4 separate regions of the Homo sapiens genome follow, and all the other regions are linked to region 3. Evidence: fine-mapped expression QTL. A gene starts in region 3. Each other region holds a variant in brackets. All regions are shown on one strand. Distances are between the middles of the regions.

Region 1 (5,466 bases), 96 kb after region 3:
TTGGCACCACTACACTCCAGCCTGAGTGACAGAGTGAGACTCTGCCTAAAATAATAATAATAACAAAGAAATAGTCAATCATTGTAAGTCAGTAATACGACAGGAGAAATTGGAAATCCTTCAGGGTGAAGATTTTATTTTAGTAACATGCTTTATTTTAGCACAAATGCATACCATGGACTTGCTGGGGATGGGTTGGGGAGGGATGATACAGTCGTTATAGAAAATCATATCATATTTTATTCATTATGCTTATTCATTCATCACATGGTCACTTTGAATTCTTACCATTCCTTATATTTCCAAGATCAAATTTGTTTCTTATTATGCTAATATCCCTATAAATTCCCAGTCTCCAGGAGGTCTGAGTTGGTTCTATTATGACTTATTCCACCTGCCAGGGGAGAAACTGTTCCTGAGAAATGAAGGGACTTTCCCAGGGCTTCAGGGTTAGAGAGTGGCTGGTTTTAGACAAACCGGTGCTACCCATACTGTTAACCCAACACAGGCATGCTTATAAGGAAAGGTTAAAAAAAGTAAAAGGAACTCGGCAAATCTTACCCCGCCTGTTTACCAAAAACATCACCTCTAGCATTACCAGTATTAGAGGCACCGCCTGCCCAGTGACATATGTTGAATGGCCGCGGCTTTCTACGTCTCTAGGGGCTGTGGAGAATACGTGAGAAGACCGCATCCCCTGCTCACATGCAGGGCATACCCTACAGTGGAGCTGTATGGGGCTGCCTGGAAGCCCCCTCACCCCAGGTAGAGAAGTAACTGACTCCATGACTCCTCCAGTAGCAGCCTCCAATGTGCAGGGAGGAGAGGCACTGAGCACCTGTGCCATCCCTGGCCTCTCATCCAGAACCCAGCCCCAGGGATGGGAGTGCTCCAGGCAATAAGTGGAGAAAAGCAGTTAAGTTAAACTCCCTGGGAGAGGCTGGGGCACCGTCTCAGCCAGCTGGGGCTCATATGATGGAATACAATAGCTGACGTGGCTTATAAACGGTAGAAATTTATTTCTCACAGTTCTGGAGGCTGAAAGCCCCAGGTCAGGGTGCCAGCACTGTGGGGTGACTGGTGGGGACCTGCTTCCAGCTGGGAGACGGTCACCTTCTTGTGATGTCCTCACATGATGGAGGGGACAAGGGAGCGCTCTCGGGCCTTTTTTATGAAGGTGCTGAGCCCATTCATGGTGGCTCTGCCCTCATGACCTAATTAGCTCCAAAGGTCTCACTTCCAAATATCATCACCTTGGGGGTTAGGATTCTAACATGAATTTTAGTCCATAATGGGCATTTCTCTCTCTCTCTCTCTGTCTCTGTCTCTCTGTCTCTCTCTGTCTCTGTGTCTCTCTGTCTCTCTCTCTCTCTCTCTCTCTGTGTGTGTGTGTGTGTGTGTGTGTGTGTATGTGAGAGAGAGAGAGAGATACAGACAAACAGAGATGGGGAGGGACCAGGAGATACTCCTTCCCATTGCATCACTGATCCATGCACAGTCTTGGCTCCTGTTTAGGGGAGCAGAAGTGTTTGGCTCTGCCCTCCTTTCAGAAAGGGGTAGTTGCCTGTTTACAGTAGGTAGGGCCATGCTGGGCTCCTCCCTCCCCTCCCTTGGCTGTGGTCCCTAGGTAACCAGGAGATACCCTGCAGGTCTAGCCCTGGCACCCTGTTTGCTCTTTGTTCTGCCACATCCCTTGAGGTCTGAGGGACACTGAGGTGAAGTTTGGTCCTGGAATGCACCTGACCACCTTCTCCTGCCCTTTCCTTGCACTTTGCTTCTCTGATCTCCTGGGAGAACTCTGCCATCTGCACTCTTTTTCTTAGTCTCTTTCTCTCTCCCTGTCTCCTTCTCTTCTCTCTCAATCTTGTTTTTCTTTCTCTTTCCTCTCAATCTCTCTGTCTGTCTCTCTCTTTCTTTGCCTGTCTCTGTCTCTCTGTGTCTGTCTCTGTGTCTTTCTTTGTGTCTTTTTCTCTCTGTCTCTCTGTGTCTCTCTCCATCTTTTCCAGGGCAGACATCCTGCCTTGCCATTTCCTGCATGTGTTTCTCTTGTCCATTCCAAGTTCAGAGCAGCCAGAAACAGCAGCCACACCCCAGTACTGATCTGAGCAGAGACCAGGCATGGACTATTGGGCAAATCCTTATGGCTCACATCATAGACTAGGTCAGGAAAATATCGTTCCTCTGTTTCTTTTCTGGGATTCTCAAGGACTGTGGATGGTAGGTGGTGCCACCTGATTGGAGTAAGAGAATGGGTGTGTAGGTACCCTCCCAGGAGGGTGAGCAGATCTTAAATGATAAATCCACTTGAACATTCTAATTTCCCTAAGTCTTTTTTTTTTGAGACGGAGTCTTGCTCTGTCAGCCAGGCTGGAGTGCAGTGGCACCATCTCGGCTCACTGCAGGCTCCGCCTCCCGAGTTCACGCCATTCTCCTGCCTCAGCTTCCAGTGTAGCTGGGACTACAGGTGCACGCCGCCACGCCCAGGTAATTTTTTTGTATTTTTAATAGAGACGGGGTTTCACCGTGTTAGCCACGATGGTCTCGATCTCCTGACCTCGTGATCCACCCGCCTTAGCCTCCCAAAGTCCTGGGATTACAGGCGTGAGCCACCGCGCCCGGTCTTCCCTAAGTCTTTGAATCCCT[C/T]CCTCTATAGCATGTCAAGGCAGGTCCATCATTTCAAGCTCACTTACTGTAGGCCACCTTCTGGCCCGTGTTGCAGTCAACCAACCAAACAGAACCTTTTCTAACTCCTTGAGCTGCAACATTAAATAGAGAATCACTGCTTAGGGAGCCCATATCAATAAATTCAGCCTGATCCAATCCAACTTTTTATGTTTCTTTCACTATTATCCAACACCTTTAATATCCATTTCTACGCATGCTTCCCAGACTTCTGTCTGTATAAATTAGAAAACCAAAGTATTTTTATTATTATTATTATTTTTTGAGTCTCACTGTCACCCAGGCTGGAGTGCAGTGGTGTGATCTCAGCTCACTGCAACCTCCGCCTCCCCAGTTCAAGTGGTTCTCATGCCTCAGCCTCCAGAGTAGCTGGGATTACAGGCACCCACTACCATGCCTGGCTAATTTTTGTATTTTTAGTAGAGACGGGGGTTTCACCATGTTGGCCAGGCTGGCCTCGAACTCCTGACCTCAAGTGATTCGCCCACCTTGGCCTCTCAAAGTGCTGGAATTACAGGTACAGGCATGAGCCACTATCCCTGGCTAAAGTGGTTCTTTGGGAGTGCAGCACACCTCCTCATGGGGCACACTTTGATCCTTACTGTTAAAGGCATGCTGGGACTCTGGTCTAGTTCTAGCTCTAGAAGCAAAAAGGGGTGTTGGGGTTGGGTCCCAAGGAGAATCAGCACTGTTTTGCATGGCAGCTGCCTCAGGGGAGGCCTTTGCAGCTTCCCCAGGCAATGCAGAGTTAATCCCCTCAGTCAGGGCTGGAGAGGCTGCTTCTACTGGCAAGGAAGACTTACCAGAACACAGAGGATCAATGTCTCCAGTTTCATCAGGGTCTTCCCACATGTCCCCATGAAGTGGCTACCTTGTCTGGGGTATATAACTGGGGTTCGTCATCTTGTGCCAGGGAAATTTAGGACACGAACACTCATGAGGAGTTTAGGAGTGGAGGCTTAATAGACAGAAGAAAGAGAAAGGAGAACAGCTCTCTCTATTGAAAGAAGGGACTTCCAAGCGGAAAGACTGGCTGGCAGGGGATGTGTGGGATTTTATAGTCTGGCTTGAGGAGAGGGTGTCTGATTCACGTAGGGCTCACAGATTGGTTCCATCAGGTATGACGTTTACATGGTGTGTGGGGAAGGCTGGTCACCGCACCCTAGTCTTACAAGGCAAATAAACTCTCCCCTTGGCCAGCAGCCATCTTGTCTGCTCCTTACTGTACAGGTGGCTGGCAAAGAAGGGAAGTTGGAGCCGCCATCTTGAACATGTCTAGTCCCTAGTTCCTGCCGGCATTCACCCGTGCAAGCTCCCAGCCTGCTTGTCTATGTCTGCAGCTCAACATTACAGGCTGCTCTTTGTTAGAAAATGATTTGGGGCTGCTTTTCATTAAAAACAAAATCTTACCGAGGACTCCCATGCCCTCACTATTTGCCTAAGTGATTTGTTCTTAGACGGCCACAGAGTCTCAGTAATGCCTCGGTAATAACTCCTGTATCACCCATACCAATTTTCAGTATCATTTTCTTCCCAATCAATTTCTCATTTTAAGAGTAGACATCCTGCTTGGTTGTCCAATTCAATTTGTGTTGTAATTCAGCCACTTGTAGGGTGTGATTCAATTATAGTTTTGGTTTTCAGCAATCTCAGCTCTGCAGCTACAGAAAATAAGGGTCTCTTTCAGGGCAGGGATAGAAGCTTTCAGGTCATTTATGCGGAGCTTGAGCTGAACATTTGATTTCCCGAGCTCATCCTTTTCTTTCCCCGCTTTGTCCAGTGACATCAGGAGCAGTCAACCAATCTCATTATACTTGTTAGTTTGATTAAAAATGTTTGATGGTACCATATGCATGACCACTCAGATCCTTGGCTCTTAATAAATTTTTGATTATGAGTATTCAACAGTGATGTTTTACCTAACTCTACTGTTACATCACACCATGGACTATCTGCATTCTCTCTACTATTAGGAGTAGTCATCAGTGCCTTTAAAGGTAATCAGCTTAGAGAGCCAATTCCAGAAACCCCAGAAGCAATTCAGAAAGCTCCTGAAGATTTAAGATCTTAAGGATTCTCAAAATGCTTAAGATTCTGTTCCTCTAGAACCATCCTTGGTATTAAAATCTGTAGTAGTCCATATAAACAGAATCAATAGGTGGTAGAAATCTGTCTGTATCTGTATTTCTCCAGCTCTATCTCGATGTCCATCTATCTATATTTATCTATAGACAGAGGAATTGGCTCATGTGATTATGGAGGCCAGCAAGTCTGACATCTGCCGGGCGGGCCAACAGGCTGAAGACTCAGGGAAGAGTTGATATTACAGTTTTGAGTCCAAAGTCAGTCTGGAGGCAGACTTCCCTCTTCCTCGGGGGACCTGAGTCTTTTTCTCTGAAGATGTTCAGCCGATTGGATGAGGCCCACTCACACTGTGGAGGGTCACCTGCGTTACTCAAAGTCTGCTGGTTTCAACGTTGATCTCATTTAAAAACATACCTTCACAGCAACATCTAGACCGGCATTTGACCAAACATCTGGGTGTCATGGTCTAGCCAACTTGACACATACCACAAGCATAATTTGAGATAGGAAATAAACATGGGAGAGGTTTGTTGAGGGGACAGGTGGCCACAGAGTCTCAGTAATGCCCTGTTCATACCCACTTCACAGCCCTCTGTGGATGGAAGCTAACTAGTCCCAGGAGGAGTCATGAAGAAGTGGTGGCTGGCTTTGGGAGTAGCCTGCCTCATGGCACTGCTAGTCTCTCCTGAGGGCCCAGCC
Region 2 (5,466 bases), 53 kb after region 3:
ATTGTCCTTCATTATTTGATGTCCAATATTTTGAAAACGGTTGTATTTTATAAATTGTCTCTCCTTTCCTTCCTCCCTCCCTCCTTTCTTCCTTTCCTTTCTTGCTTTTTCAGACTGGCAGGTAACTACATTTCCTGTCACTGCACCTTGACTTGCAGCATATATCCTAGTCTTATAATCTCCTCTTCAATGCCTGCATTTCCTATTGTGTTTCTTTCTCAGGAAATGGATCCATCTTTTATTAAACTCTCTAACCCAGAGCTGAAGAATAATACATGACTCCTCCCTCTCCCAGATTCCACACCCATGTAGTCCCCAAAGTTTATTCTTTCTACGGCTTTAATCCTTTCTTTCTTTGTTCCTTCTGCCACGGGGCTAGTTTAGACCAGTGTATTTTCTCATCTGGACTATTACATCTTCCTGTTCTCTCTTCTCAACCCCTTCACATCTCTACTGAGATTCTGCCTCTTCTTGTATTCAGTGAGTGACATAGTCATCCACCAAGTTAGCTAAGGCAGAAACAGGAGTCGTTCTGATTTTTGTCCTTTCTACTAAGCCCAATACCTAGGATATAGTAGGTGTCAATGGGATTATTTTATTGAAATAACTTTTACACAGGTGAAGAGATGTTCAACCTCATTAAAATAAGAAATAACACAATTTAAACTGTATGAAGTTGTCATTATTCTTTATCCGACTGGCAAAAGTCTAAAGGTGGCTGGGTGTGGTGGCTCATGCCTGTAATCCCAGCACTTTGGGAGGCTGAGGCGGGCGGATCACCTGAGGTCAGGAGTTGGAGACCAGCCTGACCAACATGGAGAAACCCCGTCTCCAATAAAAATACAAAATTAGCCGGGCGTGGTGGTGCATGCCTGTAATCCCAGCTACTCTGGAGGCTGAGGCAGGAGAATGGCTTGAACCTGGGAGGCGGAAGTTGCTGTGAGCCGAGATCGTGCCATTGCACTAAATCCTGGGCAACAAGAGCGAAACTCTGTCTAAAGAAAAAAAAAAAGTCTAAAGGTGTGATAATACACTGTGTCAGGGAAGGTGCAAGGAAAAAGTTACTCTCATATGTTGCTGCTGGGGGTATAAATTGGGACACTGTTTGTGGAGGGCAATTTGGCAGTATCTATCGCACAACATTGGAGGCCAGGCATAGTAGCTCATGCCTGTAATCCCAGCACTCTGGGAGACAGAGACAGGAGGATTGCTTAAACTCAGGAGTTTGAGACCAGCCTGGGCAATGTAGGGAGACCACAACTCTACAAAAAAAATTTAGCTGGGCATGGTGGTACATGCCTGTAGTCCCAGCTACTCAGGAGGCTGAGGTGGGAGGATGGCTTGAGCCTGGGAGGTTGAAGCTGCAGTGAGCTGTGATCGTGCCACTGTTGCCTGGGCAACAGAGTGAGACGCTGTCTCAAGAAAACCCAAAATCCAAAACCAAAAAACAAAAACCACTGGAAATGCATATACGTTTGACTCATCAATTTCACTTGAAGAAATTCATCTTACTGATACACTTGCACATATATATCTGTAAGGATATTTATTGCAGCAAAAGCTAGAGAGCAACTTAAATGTTCAGGAACCGAATTCTAGTTAAGTACAAATGCAATGTGGTCCATTTGATGCGTGTTGAGTGGGGATAGTCTTCCCTGTGTGTTATCGGGTGAAAAGACCCAGGTGCAGAGACGTTATGCTTCGTGGCCCCTCCTAGACCCACTCAGTGAGGGGACAGATGCCTGGGGTATGGGCGTGGAAAGAATACCCACTCTTCATGATATGCCTTTTTGTAGTCCTTGAATATTAAACCATGTACATGTATTATCTATTTCAAAAATGAGTATTTAAAAATGTGTTGCTGAAACCTATTGAATTCCCCTAATAGCCCTCCCCCAATGCCACATCCAATCAGTCTTCAAACCCTATTGATTCTACCATCTAAATTTTTCTCAAATGTGTTCCCACCTTCTCTCCATCCTCTTTCCCATCTCTGCCTCCTACTCTGCTGCAAGGCCCAATTTAAAGATTTCCTCATCTGTAAAGTCTCCCTGACCTCCTCCCACCAGTATGAGTTCTGTTCTAGACACATTAGGTTTGAGGTATGTTGGGTTCACATCTAAATCTGAAGCTTAGGTGAGAGATTTAGGCCAAGAGCTAGATGTGGGAGTCATTAGGTACATTTTGTGACTGCATTCTTGAGCGCTTGAGTTAATGCGTGGCTACCAGAAATGACAGGATTTTTGTCTGGGACTGCAGAGTGGAAGCTGTTGTTTCTGGGACAGAGTCTCATTGTTAGGTGTAGTTGCTCCCAGACCTTCAATTTGATATTGGTCTCTCAAACAGTTGCAGGAGCTATAAAACACACCAAGTTATATCTAGCAGGATTTCCTGTTCTTGCCCAGGGGGCCACACTACATGTGATTCCCCTAAAATTAAAGGATATTATCCTGGAAGCCCCACCTATGCCTGGCACCGTGCAGGACTTGACAGAGAGGAAGCTCATTAGAAGAAGGTGGGTTTCCCTCCATTGTCTCCTGAGA[T/C]GTTCCCAAGAGCTTTCATTTGAAAAGTGTCCACTCATGACGCAACTGCTGTGTGATCCCCACTAAGGTCAGCTTGGGCTGTGTGGGCAGCAGCTTTGAGGGAAAGCTCAGATGATCGTCTGACCTGGTGCCTTCACTCTGTGTGGCTCTGATGTCTGGATGTAGGAGAAAGCTTGGCACTGCCCGGGGATTGACTGAGGGCCTGAGAGGGTAGTGACTTTTAAACATTGGTGTTTACAAGTCAAGGCGGAGCCATTCTAGGACATGAATTTTGAATGTAAAATCCTCAAATTTGTCCTGGATGCCTACCATTGCTTCATGTGATGGCCATACTTTCTGCCCTGGGAATGAGTAGAAGCCCTGAGATCTGACACATCAGACTGAGGACTGGCATGGGAATGGCTGCTGCTGTGGGAGTGCTGAGAAGTCACCTGTCTTGGGCCATTTGCTCATTTGGTTTCCTCCTTCCTTCTCCTCTGGCCTAATTAACATCTCATCCTCCCGTTCTGAGCTCCTCACCTCCCCAGAAAAGCTGATAGGCCCAAAGTCTTCTGTTTCACATGCCCCCTGTAGCATGAAGTATACTGGTGGCCATTCAAAACATTAAACCAATGAATTTTTATTTCTCCCCAGATCATGTAGTCCTGTGGCTCCCACCTACTGATTTAATAACACTCAGATGGTGGGTAGGACACAAATGCCATTGCTTGGCTTTGAGTTTTGAGACTGACTAGGATTTCTAGTGAGGCAAGAGTCTAGCAGGCCAGGCTCCATTGTGCTAGGACAGGGAGGTAGAAATTTCACACCTCCCATTTTGTGTGGAGCTTGGAGGTCTGAGGACACAGGGCATGATACGAAGAAGGGGAAATAGGAACAGAGGGTGCAGACATGGGCAGATTCTGGCAGATTGCCCTGTATGACCCCAGTCCTTCTCCCCTTTCTTCCCCAGTTGGGAGAGAACCCCAGGCGGGTGGTAGAAACTCATGGATGGGAATTTTGTTAAGTGTGGTGGAGTAACATTCATTTCCCCAAATTCCACTCAATGAACAGAGAAGGAACATACAAGGACAAAGAGAATAAAAAAGGGAATGACAGCCAAGGAGAGATGTCAGCAAGATTTTGGGAGACAGAAAGTGGCTGAACTTTGCAGAGTGAGGGAAGGTGAGACCTACAAACCTGGGTGGGCCAGTGGGGAGCAAGCCATGGGGCCCCAGACCCCAGAGAGGCTCAGAACTGGAGGGAAGTGAGGACGCTGGCCCAGGTGGGCTGTGGGCTGGTTAAGTCCCTGAGCCTTGTCCCACCCTACAGGAGACCTGCTGGGGTGGAAGGTGAATAAGTGAGACTGTGAAAGGTGAGCTCCAGCTGCTTTTCTTGCTGGGCTTCTAGAATGTTCCATTCCTCCATATGCAGACTGGAAAATCCCCCTTCCTACGCTGAGAAAACTGATCAACTCAGAGGACAGAGCTGTGGATGCTGCCCTCTGGGGCTCCCCTGGGAGGTTGTGGGGCAGGATGTGATTGTCCCATCCATGGCACCTCAGTGCCCAGGCCCCGCCCTCTCCTGGGGAGCTTCCAGCCAGTGTTCTAATGTTCTCCCCTTAAATATTCACATTCAGCCAAGAATCGGCTGACTTCAAGGAGAGCCTCCAAACTGAACAACAGAGACTGAAGCAGACAAAGCAGACAGCAGTAGCAGCACTAGAAGGGCTATTCTAGGCGGGGCAGGAGCAGACGTCACATCCAAATGAGCAGGATGCCTGTGAACAGGCGTTCAGAGGACAAGAAAGAGATCATAAAAATGAAATGCCAGGGAGAGCAAAAACATCCAGTTGAAGGGTTGAATGTGAACGCTCTCCCTTTTGTGGCTGTCCCCAGTGCCCGGGACCCCGTCTCGCTGCTGCTGTGTGTGCGGTGAAGGGGGTGCTGTCAGCCATTGGAGGAAGCAGAGGTTCCCCACACTTCTCAGCAGGCTCGGCAGCCGCCCCACCCTCATGGGCATTTGGAAAGAGGGGATATTTATGTTTTCCAGGTGCCACAATGGAGGTAGATAAGGGGATGGGAGTGAGTGTTGGGTCCATCAACCAGTCCTGTTGCACAGGCCTAGAGTGCCTTTTCTTGGCCATTCTCCTCCTTTTATCATCATTGACCTGGGCTGTGCTCAGTGCCCTAGGGCAGTTAATCCTGTGATGAGCAGCATCCTCTATGGGCATTTGAGTGAAGCTCTCTGAGAGTCTCTTTAGGATGTATACCCAGAAGCTGAATTCCTTAATTTGCTGAATGCCACCATATTGCTTTCCCAGATGGCTGAAACCAGTTCCCTCTCCTCTTGATGGGGAGGAGGATTCCTGCTTCTTCACATCTTAGCCAACACTTGGTATTATACACGTTTCTAGTTTTTTTGTGTGTGGGATTCTGTTGGGTATAAAGTGGCACCTCACTAAAAGTTATTCTTTATCTTATTACTAGTAACTGTGATTATTTCTTCATATACTTGTTACCATTTGGGCTTCCTTTTCAGCAGGTGCCTGTTCATCACCTGGCTTTTTATTATTCATTTATAGGAATTACTAATATAGTCCAGATAGTCCAGATTTTACTCTTTTGTCAGTTTTAGATAAGGCTGTCATCTGTTAATTTACAAATGATGTTTTTCACTGAACCATACTCCTTAATTTTTTTTTTTTTTTGAGGCAAGATCTCACTCTGTTGCCCAGACTGGAGTGCAGTGGTGCAATCATGGCTCACTGCAGACTCACCCGACCTGGGCTCAAGTGATACTCCTGCCTCAGCCTCCCAAGTAGCTGGGACTATAGGCACATGCCACCATGCCTAATTTTTGTATTTTTTGTAGAGATGGGGTTTCACCATGTTGCCTAGGCTGGTCTTAAGCTCAAGCAATACACTCACCCCTTACAGTATTACAA
Region 3 (5,466 bases):
CCGTCTCTACTAAAAATACAAAAATTAGCCGGGCATGGTAGCACAAGCCTGTAATCCCAGCTACTCGGGAGGCTGAGGCAAGATAATTTCTTGAGCCCCGGAGGCAGAGGTTGCAGTGAGCCAAGATCATGCCATTGCACTCCAGCCTGGGCAATAACAATGAAACTCCTTCTAAAAAAAATATAAATAAATAAATAAATAAATAAATAAAATAAATAAATAATTATGAACGCTAAGAGGGGATTCCTGAGAGGACCCCAGTGCACACAGGATCGCAGACACAGGGAATGGTGCCGGGGCCAGCACCCACCGAGGGACAAGCAGGGAGACAGGTGCTGTCCAGGGCACACCCCATGGTCAATCTCATTTATGGCGGCAGCCTTTCCACACTCAGGGTCGGGGGGATGCACCGTGGAAGGGGCAGGTCCCTCTCTCCCATGGCTCAGCTCCTCACAGCCTGTGTTAAACCCACCTGCCCTGCAGAGGCCATGGGCACCACTGGGCACAGAGAGGAGAAGTGAGGGCCCTGCCTTAGAGGGACCTAGGGGCAGTAGACACAACTCCCTGGGAGTTTGTTGGGGCATGGTTGGTTCCATGGAGGAGAGGTGTTGGAACCCAACTCTGTAGAATGGCCAGGGCTTCCCCACTGCAGAGCCAGGGTGGGGAGTCCAGGAAAGGGAGCATTGCTCCCTGGTGCAGGCTTGGGGGAACTGGCTGCCCCCCTCCCACCTGACAACCCCATCCTACTGTTCCAGCCTGCAAGCTATGTGCAACCGCCTTTGGGGCTGTGGGACCGAGTGGAGACTAAGACTCTCCTGGAGAGAGCTGTAGGGCCGAGTCTGTGTGGGATGTGGGTGGACACCTGGGCCTGGACCATCCTCTTGGTTTGTCTTGGCTGGTGTAGGGTGTGCGTGTGTGTAAGCCAGCCCCCTGCTGCCCTGGTCAGCTTGTTTTATGACCCCTGGCCTGTGGGCAGAAGGCCTGGCTGTGGGCACCATCAGTCTCACTAGAGGCTCTGTGGCCACCCCTACACCTGCTGCCCACCCCTCAGGCAGAAGGCAGGACAAATGATCAATTTTAATTAGTTTTGACTCCTTTGAATTAATTCTGGCTGTAATCAGAATTTCTTCAGTAAAAAAGCACAGAAAGTTCTTCTCCCGAATAAGGGTCTTGTTAAATAAAGTGGGTCTTTCTAAGCCAGGAGAAGTTCAGCTCAGCTCCTGGGAAGGTAGCAGTACCTACGGCTCAGAGGAGTGGAGGGCCCATCCATGTAGGAGCCTGGGCCTGTGCCCCAACCTCAGACCAGCATGTGCCCCCAGGGGTGGTGGGTGGGCCCTGGAGGGCAGAGAGGTGCCTCTAGCTGGCTCTCGGAAGTCCTGACCAGTGACAATTCTTAAGACACCATTAAGTGTCCACTGGAGCCAGGGCCTGTGCTAGGGGCTGAGGGTGACAGAGGTGACCCATCTGGCCAAGTGACCTGTGGCTGGAGAAACTGAGGCCCTCCTTCGCCTCAGGGACCCTGACACTCTTCAAGGCCAGGTCTTTGGTGGTGCCAGATACTCTCCTGTCCCTTGGTTTGCTTGTGGCTTGGTTCTTGGTGTGTGATACGTCTCTGTGTGTGTAGTTGCCACACCCTCCAGTCTCTCTCATACACACTGTTTCCCAAGCATACACTCACAAACACACCTTGTCTCAGACTCAAACACACACATGCCACACACACACCATACATCACACACTCCATGCACACACATGCATCTACACACACCCCACATGCACATCACACACACGTACTCCATGAACAACACACACACGCACACACACAGACGCACACACACACACCCCCCAACCTCTTTTATGCACTTTCCTGACCTTTGGAGACCTGGCTCCTAGATGTATCTCTGCTCAAAGTTCCCCTCCCTGCCTGGGGGCAGCTCTGGACTCTGGTCTACTTTCGGCCAGGGCACACCTAGCCCACTCCCAGGTCCACCTTCCTCCAGTCTACCCCCAGACTCCTCTAGGCCATCATCAGCCAGCGCTTCATCCTCACCTCAGCTCCCTCCCCGGTCTACCCCCACCCTCTGCCCCTGAGCCTGGACGGAAGTTCCCCAAGTCTCTCCAGCCTGCATCCCAGCCCACCGTCAGCCGGCCCCCACGCTCACCCCAGCTCACCTCCCAGTCTGCCCCTACAATCTGCTCCCAAAAAGCTCCTTTGCAGCTCAGCACCCCAGCCCCGCCCTCAGAGCCCATCAGCCGGCACCCCACCTTACCCCAGCTTGTCCCCAGCTCGAAACCCTGCCCTCGCCCCCCTCTCACCCCGCTGAGACTCCAGCCGCCCCCATCCCTCCCACCCGGCGCGCCTGCAGGGACTGCACCCCACATCTGGAGGCAACGGGGCACGGCCGCAGGCGTGGTCTGGGGGTGCGGCCTGAGGGCGGACCCCCTGAGGCCCCGCCCCACCCCAACCCCAACCGGGCGTCCCCCAGCCGCGCCCCCAGCGGGACCGAGCGTGACCCAGCTGCGGCCGGCCAGCCATGGAGACTGGAGCGCTGCGGCGCCCGCAACTTCTCCCGTTGCTGCTGCTGCTCTGCGGTAAGGGGGCGACGGCCCGCACCGGGGGCGCCCCCACTCCTCGGGGTTCACCGGACCCGGGTGGACCCGCGCCTTCCCGCACCTGCGCCGCGGTCCTTCCCTTGCCCCGGAGCTCGGGAGGGGCGCACAGTGACCCTGGCGGGATTCCCAGGCTCTGCGGGAGGGTTCCACCCGGGAGAAGCTGAAGGCGAAGGACTCTGGCGGGCAAGGGAGGCACAGGGCCCCCTCCGGGGTCTTCTGACGGCAGGGTCCGGCAGCCCCCGGTCCTTCTAGTTGTGATGTCCCCCCACGCCCCGGTTCTGGGGTCGCCTCAGGGTGGGCGAGAAGAGGTGGACCAGGTCTGGCTCTTTACCCCTTATCCCCCAGGGTGGGCTGTCTGTAAGGTAGTGAGCTCTCTGTCCTGGCATTGAGTGCCTGCCCACCACTCACAGGGGCGTGGGCGGGTGGACTCCGGACTGGGTAGCTGGTCCTCCCAGGGCCCCTCAGTGTGTGGACGCCTGTGTGTGTCCTGGAACTGGCTGAGAGGGGAAGCGGGGCGACTCTCTGAGCCATCCTCTCCTAATGCCTTCTTCGGCAAGAAATCAGGACTCTAGGAAGAACCATTGCTCACAAAATGGAAATAGATTAAACTAAAAGCTTGTTTTGAAGTACCTTGCTAAAGAAATTATCCAAGAAAAAGTAAGAGAGAGAGAGAGAGAGAGAATGTGTGTAAAGGCTGTTGGGGAAGAGTGCTTGCTGAGGGCTGGGGTCCACTGAGTGGTGACTGAGCCTGGCCAGTTCTGGGGGGGACATTGGTGATGGAGGGCCCTGGCCTGGTGGTCCCCAGTTTCCCTGGCTGTAAGATGCAGAGTTGGGCCTGTTTTGATGATTTGGGATTTGGTACGGGAGGTGGGAAAAGGGTGGACCAAACTCAGTGGTCATTTTCCTTCCATTGAAGAGGTCTTGGTGTGCAGAACTTGTGTGGCTTCATTTGGTGTTCCAGGGCTGGAGCCTAGGATGTGGTGGATTTTGTGTTGAAGTGCAAAGGTGGATGGCAGCTTCTGAAATCAGGAGCATGCTGATTTGGGATTTCAGCAAACTTCCAGTGAGCGCCCCTTAGGTGGAGATCTTGGTCGCTATAGTGGAAGGAAGGTCCTCTCAATTCATTCTGGGAGAAGCTGAGGCTTTCCTGATCATCTCCAGTATCAAATTGAGAAGGACCACAGGCTTCCGCCTGCACAGAATCCCCCCTTAATAATCCTGTCTCTCGTGGACCCAGTTCCTGAGGGCCACTTCTTTGTCCTGTTGTGTTGGTCCTGACTGTCCCCCTCCAATGGGACATGGGTTCACGCTCCCTGGCCAGAATAGGGACCAGGTCCAGCTTCTCAGCAGACCCTCCCAGTGTTCGACTGGCCAGAGTGAGATTCAGGGAGAGGTAAAACTTGCTCATGGTCCCAGGCCGATGTGTCAGAGGTATCCGGGACTGGAACCCACATCTGCCCTGGATGCTGCTGTGTCTGGAAGGAAGGAGCTGGGTGGGTTCCTCTTGACTGAGGACTAGCTCAGGAGGACCAGCAGGGAGGGTGCAGGCCTCTGGGGCTTCTTTGAGAATTCCAGACCTTTTTCCAGAAAGCATTTGATGCTGTGTGGGGCTGTGGGGATGCGAAGTCCAGCAGTTGTCTACTCAGCAGGACACTTTGCTGTGGTGCCCAGCTCTTGACTGGACTCTTCTGGTCTGGGTGAAAATCCTGATCATGATCCCAAGATTATAAAGCACTCACTGGCCTCAGTTTCCGAGCTGCAATGTAGATGTAATAATAGCAATCTGTAAAGGGCTGCTGAGACCGTCAGTTTGATTCCATTCAGTTTAGTCCCTATCACCTTGTGTTGGGCATGGGATTGTGGGGTGGAAGGGTTCATGCTTAAACAAGGGGAGGTATGGGAAGGCACCCACCAGTGACTGCACTGGGCCTCATGAGGCTCACTCACAGCACCCAAAGATGGAGCACCATAGTGTGTGTGCCTGTGTGTGCAAGCGTATGAACATGGTACCATCGTTTTTATCATTAAATGATGTCCTGCTGCCATGTTACCTGTGGTCATATTGATTCTACTGAATCAAGTGGGCCCAAGGGCCATGGTTGGATAGCAGTAACTCTGGTGAATTAAAGACTTGGAGGTGGCCGGCCGGGTGCGGTGGCTCACGCCTGTAATCCCAGCACTTTGGGAGGCCAAGGCGGGCAGATCTCGAGGTCAGGAGATCGAGACCATCCTGGCCAACATGGTGAAACTCCGTCTCTACTAAAAATACAAAATATTAGCCGGGTGTGGTGGTGCATACCTGTAGTCTCAGCTACTCAGGAGGCTGAGGCAGAGGAATCGCTTGAACCTGGAAGGCGGAGATTGCAGTGAGCCGAGATCATGCTATTGCACTCCAGCCTGGTGACAAAGCGAGACTCTGCCTCAAAAAAAAAAAAAAAAAAAAAAAAAAAAAAAAAAAAAAAAAGACTTGAAGGTGGTGATTGGCCAAGAAGAGGCCCATAGATTTTTGGCACTGGAGGTTCCTTGGAGGTTATCTGACCTCCATGCTCTTACCTATTCTTCATAAGGAAACAGAAATCTGGAGGTTAGAGAGGAAGTTGCCCAACCACAGAGACCAGGGGCAGAACCGCCCAGAATCCACAGCCTCCCAAGGTCGACTGACCGTGGCCCATGGCAGCCACTTGCCAGTCTCGTCGATGCTCTTTCTGTCAAGGAGGGGGAGAGCGCCTGTGTTTCATTTCCAAATGACTAGCCACAAAAGCCCTTTCTGGCGGAAATGCATCTGTTTGGCTGTTTATCATCTCTCAGTGGCGTCTGGAAGTCCCTGAGACAAAAGAAACACAGGCCGGCATG
Region 4 (5,466 bases), 83 kb after region 3:
CCAGCACACATCGTTTTTGTCAGATGTTCCTGAGAGTTGGATGCCCAGGTGGGAGAGGCTTGGAAGGCAACCACGCCCACCACCCATTTGGATGACGCTCCTCCTCTCTGAGCCCTCCAGGTAATCACAGCTGTCAGCTTTGGCTGTGCCCAACTGCTCCCTGGGTCTCCTTCAGCCTTCTCTGTTGTCTCTTCTTTAAGAACAAGGTGTTCTTCCGAGCAGACCAGTTCTCCATCAGGCACCAAGGAGTCCCTCCATGAGGCCCGACAGACACACATCTGCTCTTTTCCCACCGAGTTCACCCACTGTCCCGTGCTCATGCCCATTTCTGATGTCCATCCTTGCTAGTCATTCCTTAGGCTCTTCCACTATTCAAATCATTTCACTAAGGAGTTCTGGTCTTTCAAATATCTTTTCTTTTAAAGACTTTTTCTGTTATTTAGGTTGACATATCTACCTGCCTACCTACCTTCTACCTTCTAGCTGTATTTATCCAGTATTTCCATTTTTGTTTCAAACTATGCATTCATTGTTCATGAGGACTGAAAAGAATCGAATTTGGATTTGCAGTGACCTGCATTTGTGATTTCAGACTTTGTTCTTTAGGTTTCTCCCCATCGTTGCTGCACATTTCTCTCCTCTGCCCTGGCTCTCTCTTCTCTCTACCTTTGAGGCTCCATGAAAAATTCACCCCCCACAGGTTCCACTGTAAATAGGCTCTCGGGAGGTGTCGGTCTGTGGCAGGCCAATTCTCCGACAGTTACACAGACAAATTTCCACAGCACTGCCTTAACATTGAGCAAATAATTAAACCTGGGGAAACTGATGCCCAGACATCAAAGCTAGAAAGGAAACATATGGTCAGTAGGAGCCTTGCACAGACTTTTCCCTAACCTGGAGCAAGTCAAAATAACGGAGACAGCCTTCCATTCCTCGTGCCAGGACCTGTCTCAGGTCGGCAAAATCTGAGATGAGTCAAGGGAACACAGGCAGCTGTTTAAATAGATTTATTAGAGAATTGAAGGCAGCTGTCCTGACCAAGCTGTAAATGAGATAGCTAGAAATAATCACTCCGGTACCACAGTCCTCACTAATTAGAATTTAGGAGACAGGCCTTGAAGGTACTAGGGCCCTCACAGCCTGATCAGACTTAGAAAGCATTTTTTTTTTGGCCTCTGACCTTCTAGTTAAAACAAAATTAGTTACCTGTAGACTTAGGCAAATGTGATACCGCTCATAGGCACATGACCCTAACCTGTATAAGCACTAAGAAAATTGTAACACTTTGAGTTGGTCTGGTGGAATTATCTCTGGCCTTCTCCCTATAGCTGGTTACAGCAATAAATTCCCTTCTTTCCTAGTTTGTCTGCTTCTCATTACTGGGCCATAAGAAAACTCAGCCGGACTCAGTTTTGTTCCTGGAACAAGTCCACAGGGAACAACCTTTTTTGCTGAAAGTGAACTGTGGGCCCAGCTGTGTCTTGCTGCTGGGAACATCATGGGGACTGGTCTAGCCCCCTCAGCGCCCTGGCCTGGTTGAGCCTCCTCTTCTGGGCAAATATGCCTTCAGCATCTCAGAAGAGATACATTCCATTGGTTACTCATTCCCGTGGAGTGGGTTCTCCTGCCTGACAGCTTCACCAAGAGTCTGGGAGTGGTGCCAGTTGCCACGGACGGGCTACAGGCTCATCCCTGAGTCAGCCACCATTCAGAGTGAAGGGAGTTCATGGTGGGCACAGCCCTGAGCTAGGGGATGGGGTCAGCCCTCGGGACACAGGCACTGGGGATGCCAGGCAGGGAAGAACACGTCTTAACTTCTAGAGGGAAGTGTAAAGTGGACAACCTTTTTGTGCACAATTCAACTTCTTTCTTAAATTGGCCCCCTTGCACTGCTAATGTATACTCTCTTTTTTCTTTGCTTAAGAAGATATAGTCCAAGCACTGCTGGGAAAATATTTTGTTTCTTTGATATTCACAAGAAAATTTCCTTTTGCACACACAAAATATAAAGTCAATAGTTCTTTTATTCATATTTTTAGAAGTCAAGATGTTTTCTTATTTTTATTTTTTAAGGAGTGAATTTCAAAATGTTGAAAAGTCATGTTCTCATATTTGGTTGTGAGCTCTTTAAATATAGTAATTTATGGAGGAGGAGGTCTAGTTGGGTGTTAGTCAATATTATTTCAAAATTATTACAAAATTATTACTTAAACATTCCTTCACTATGTAAGCACAATAATCGCATCTAAGTGCAGCCGCCACTACCCCTCACTGGGCGGGACTCCTGGGCCCAAGGCTGTCTCTGTCAACTCCTGTCTCATTTCCTGGGGGCCCCGCCCTTAGCGGTTTTCCAGTAGATATAAATGTTATTTGCTCTATTGTTATATCTATTTTATTAAAAGCAAAACTTCCTCAGTTTCCTGCTAGCTTGTTTTTAAAAAAGGTTTCTACAATTTATACAACATTCCATTTAAGAGTTTTTTTCTGAGTTAGGAAAGGAAGTCTCCCCTTCCGCTTGGTTCAGAATTAGAGAGACACTCCCCTGCCCCACCTCACTGAAATTCATTTGTTTATCTCATTATTTCAGCTGCAGTTTTCTAGAGATATG[C/T]AAACCACCAGAGTAAAAATTATTAAATGAGAATGTCCCCCAGCAATTAAGGGGAGCAACGTGGGGGAAGGGTAAGTGCATTCACTAGGGGAGACAGCCTGCCTTCCTATGATAGCGGGAAAATGGCATTGGATAATCCCTCCCAAGTCTTATTTCTGGGAAAAATTAATATCTTTGACACTAAGCTTATTGGTTTCTAGTCTTTACCTCTTAATTTATCTTTCTTCCCAAGATTTGTCCTTAAACAAAGCAGATAATAAAGTACACATGATGCGATGGCAGTGTGAACAATTCAGGACGTGAAATAGAATTCCACCATCCAGGTGAGCAAGGCTCATGACTGAAATGGCACTCGGGCAGCCCCAGCAGCAGGGCTGGGGTGAGCCTGACAGGAGCAAGGACCCTCGGAGAGTCTCCCCATGCCCAGGTGGGATGCCCAGGGAAGAGAGGGTGTCCCAGAGGGGCTGGAGCTGAGAGGAGAGTACAGAGACCAGACCATGTGGACAGGTTTGGAGCTTGCTGGTAAGAAGAAGACCACCAAGGATGCTTGAACAGAGAGGTGAGCTTGGAGATCAGACCATGCTGATGGGCTTGGAGGGGCAGGCAGGGATAGAGAGTGTTCAAGGCATGTGTGAACAGAAGGTGAAGAGAGAGCAGCCTTAGGGAGGGAGTGGGTCCAGCCGTCGGGGAAGGAGCATCCCTGAGAAGGCAGGCAGAAGTGCGAGGTGGAGGCCAGGTGGTGTGGATGGGGCAGGGATGATTCAGCAGAGTTGATAGGAGGGCCACACCCTGCCCAAGGGCGGTGGAGGGGAAGGGAGCTTCCAGTCTTTGATTGTACTCCAGGGACATGGAAAGACTTGCTCTTGGGTCTTTGCCGGGGAAATGGTTATAAGGGCCAGCATGGGGCGAAGTGGATCCTGGTGATCCCTGGTGGCAAGTGACCAGTGGGCCAAGCCCTTGGAGGAACAAAAGAAGTTACTTTAAGGGAGCAGGGGCGGGGAAGGAATTTTGCCTGGAGGTGCCTGACACCCTGGCATGGAGAGCAGGTGGGGCACCCCATGCCTTGAGAACTGGGGTCCACACATTAAGGATGGCTCTGGGAGTGAGCAGGATGGAGGAGGGGTGTGGAGCCGCCTTCTGAGAAGCTTGCCCTGTGGCTTTTTCTTCCGTCTCCCTTCAGTCTCTGAGTGCTGTTTGGCCCCAGCAGGTGCCTTGCTTGTCTCTCTGTTGAGCACAGCAAACCCCTTCCCTCGTTGTCCACTCAGCCACCTCGAATCACCATGGAGCCTGCCTGAATGGCCACTTGCTGGGGTTCCTGGTTGGACCTAGCTGGTGAGGCCCCACCACTGCCTCCCTATGATGCTGATTGCAACAGAAACCACTGGCAAAATAAAAGTACAATTACCCAAGGACTCAGAGAAGTAAACAAAGCCACTGAATGTGGAATAGTCAAAACTTGATTTAGAGACCCACAGAGTGAGTTAGTTCCCCATGTTTTTTTCTTTGCTCTCTCATTCTGAACCCAAGGGCTGGTTCCAGGTGCAGAAATGTGCAGTGGCAGCAGAGACCAAAACTCCAACAGAAACCCCGTCTTTCCAGCCAAAGGAAGAAGGATAGGGCCTCTAGTTCCCATGAATGCGGAAGATCTTTGCTCTCCCTCTTTGCTGGAGCTGTGGAGCTTTGTGCTGAGCTGATGTTAGCAGTTACAGCTCTGAAAGAAACCCTGCCCTCTCCACTCAGCCAAACCAGGAAAAGGAGCCCTGGCAGGAGGGTCCCTCACCTCTGTGGAGGGCTGCAGTCCAGGGCTCACCTCTGAGCTGTGCGTATGTAAGACAGAGCAAAGGCTTTGCAAGCTGAGCAGAGATCAGAGCCACTGAAGGAAGTGAGGAGAGCGGATGGCTGGAAGCCGCTTGGACTGGCTGCCTGAAAGCAAGCAAGCAAGCAAGCAAGCAAGCAAGCAAGCAAGCAAGCAAGCAAGCAAGCAAACAAACAAACAAACAAAAAACAGCATCCTCTAGGGGGATCTAGAGTCTAGATGACATAATATTAAAATGTCCAGGACTCTATTCTGAGGAGGTGACACTGATGGCCAGACCTAAAGCTCAGAAGGTGAAGGGTATGCTTGTCAGGCGCACAGCCTGGGCAAAGACCCTGAAGTGCTGGTTGGTGAAGTGCGCTGAGGTCTCTACAACAGGCAAGGCTGAACAGGGCCTGGTTGGCTCAGCCCTGTGGGTGTGGTGAATGGGTGCTGGCTCCAGGCTGCAGCTACCTACCTGTGTCCTGCAGGGCCCAGGAGGTGGTGCCCATTCTCTGCTCTAGGTAAGGGCATACCTTCTGGTGTGTTACCCTCCAGCTGTTTGCTTTTTTTTGGACAGGCTGTTCTTGTCACTGGAGTGGTAAAGTGCAGAGAGCCCATTGAGCCTGGGAGACGGAAGAAAGGGGGCCACCTGTCCTGGTTGGTTCTACACCCTCTGTCACTGTGCCCGGGCAAGTGTCCCCTGAGGGTCATCAGGCTCACAGGGCTGAGCTAAGTGTTCTGATCCAAAACCTCCTAGGAAGGACAAATGTCTGCTGTACTCACATTTCCCCGGGACCTTACCGAAAAGGCGCTGAGGGATACTAGGTTCCTCATGTGTGTGTGCACATGTGTGTGCATGTGTGTCTGTGTGTATTTGAGTGTCTGTGTATGCATGTCTCTGTGTTTTTTTTGTGTACGTGTGTCTGGGTGTATCTCTGTGTGGATGTTTGCGTGCATCTGTGTCTGTGCATGAGCATGGTGTGTGTCTTTGTGTGTGTGTGTGTGAGTGCATGTTCATGTGCATCTGTGTGTCTGTGCCCACATACATGCATGCCTCCGT

Which allele goes with the higher level. Alleles are on the strand shown, and positions count from the first base shown. SD is a standard deviation of normalised expression in the study named. Not every link is listed here.
With allele T in place of C in region 2, the expression in tibial nerve of the gene that starts at base 2,497 in region 3 is higher (small effect, 0.23 SD a copy in GTEx).

Evidence for each region. PIP is the estimated chance that this variant, and not a neighbour inherited with it, causes the effect.
Region 1: its variant is the best candidate, but not a certain one, in a credible set for the expression of RAMP3 in whole blood (INTERVAL, PIP 0.57).
Region 2: its variant is the best candidate, but not a certain one, in a credible set for the expression of RAMP3 in tibial nerve (GTEx, PIP 0.81).
Region 4: its variant is the best candidate, but not a certain one, in a credible set for the expression of RAMP3 in whole blood (TOPMed, PIP 0.68).

The regions. Positions count from the first base shown.
Region 1 is chr7:45,251,481-45,256,946 of GRCh38, forward strand. No RefSeq gene overlaps it. Among named protein-coding and RNA genes, the nearest start is that of RAMP3, 96 kb to the left of the region's middle. The variant C/T (reference allele first, on the strand shown) is at 2,644.
Region 2 is chr7:45,208,720-45,214,185 of GRCh38, forward strand. No RefSeq gene overlaps it. Among named protein-coding and RNA genes, the nearest start is that of RAMP3, 54 kb to the left of the region's middle. The variant T/C (reference allele first, on the strand shown) is at 2,544.
Region 3 is chr7:45,155,295-45,160,760 of GRCh38, forward strand. RAMP3 (receptor activity modifying protein 3) reads left to right here and starts at 2,497. Exons shown (of 3, transcript NM_005856.3): 1 at 2,497-2,592. The coding sequence starts at 2,535.
Region 4 is chr7:45,238,053-45,243,518 of GRCh38, forward strand. No RefSeq gene overlaps it. Among named protein-coding and RNA genes, the nearest start is that of RAMP3, 83 kb to the left of the region's middle. RefSeq lists enhancers at 3,168-3,669, 3,670-4,169. The variant C/T (reference allele first, on the strand shown) is at 2,609.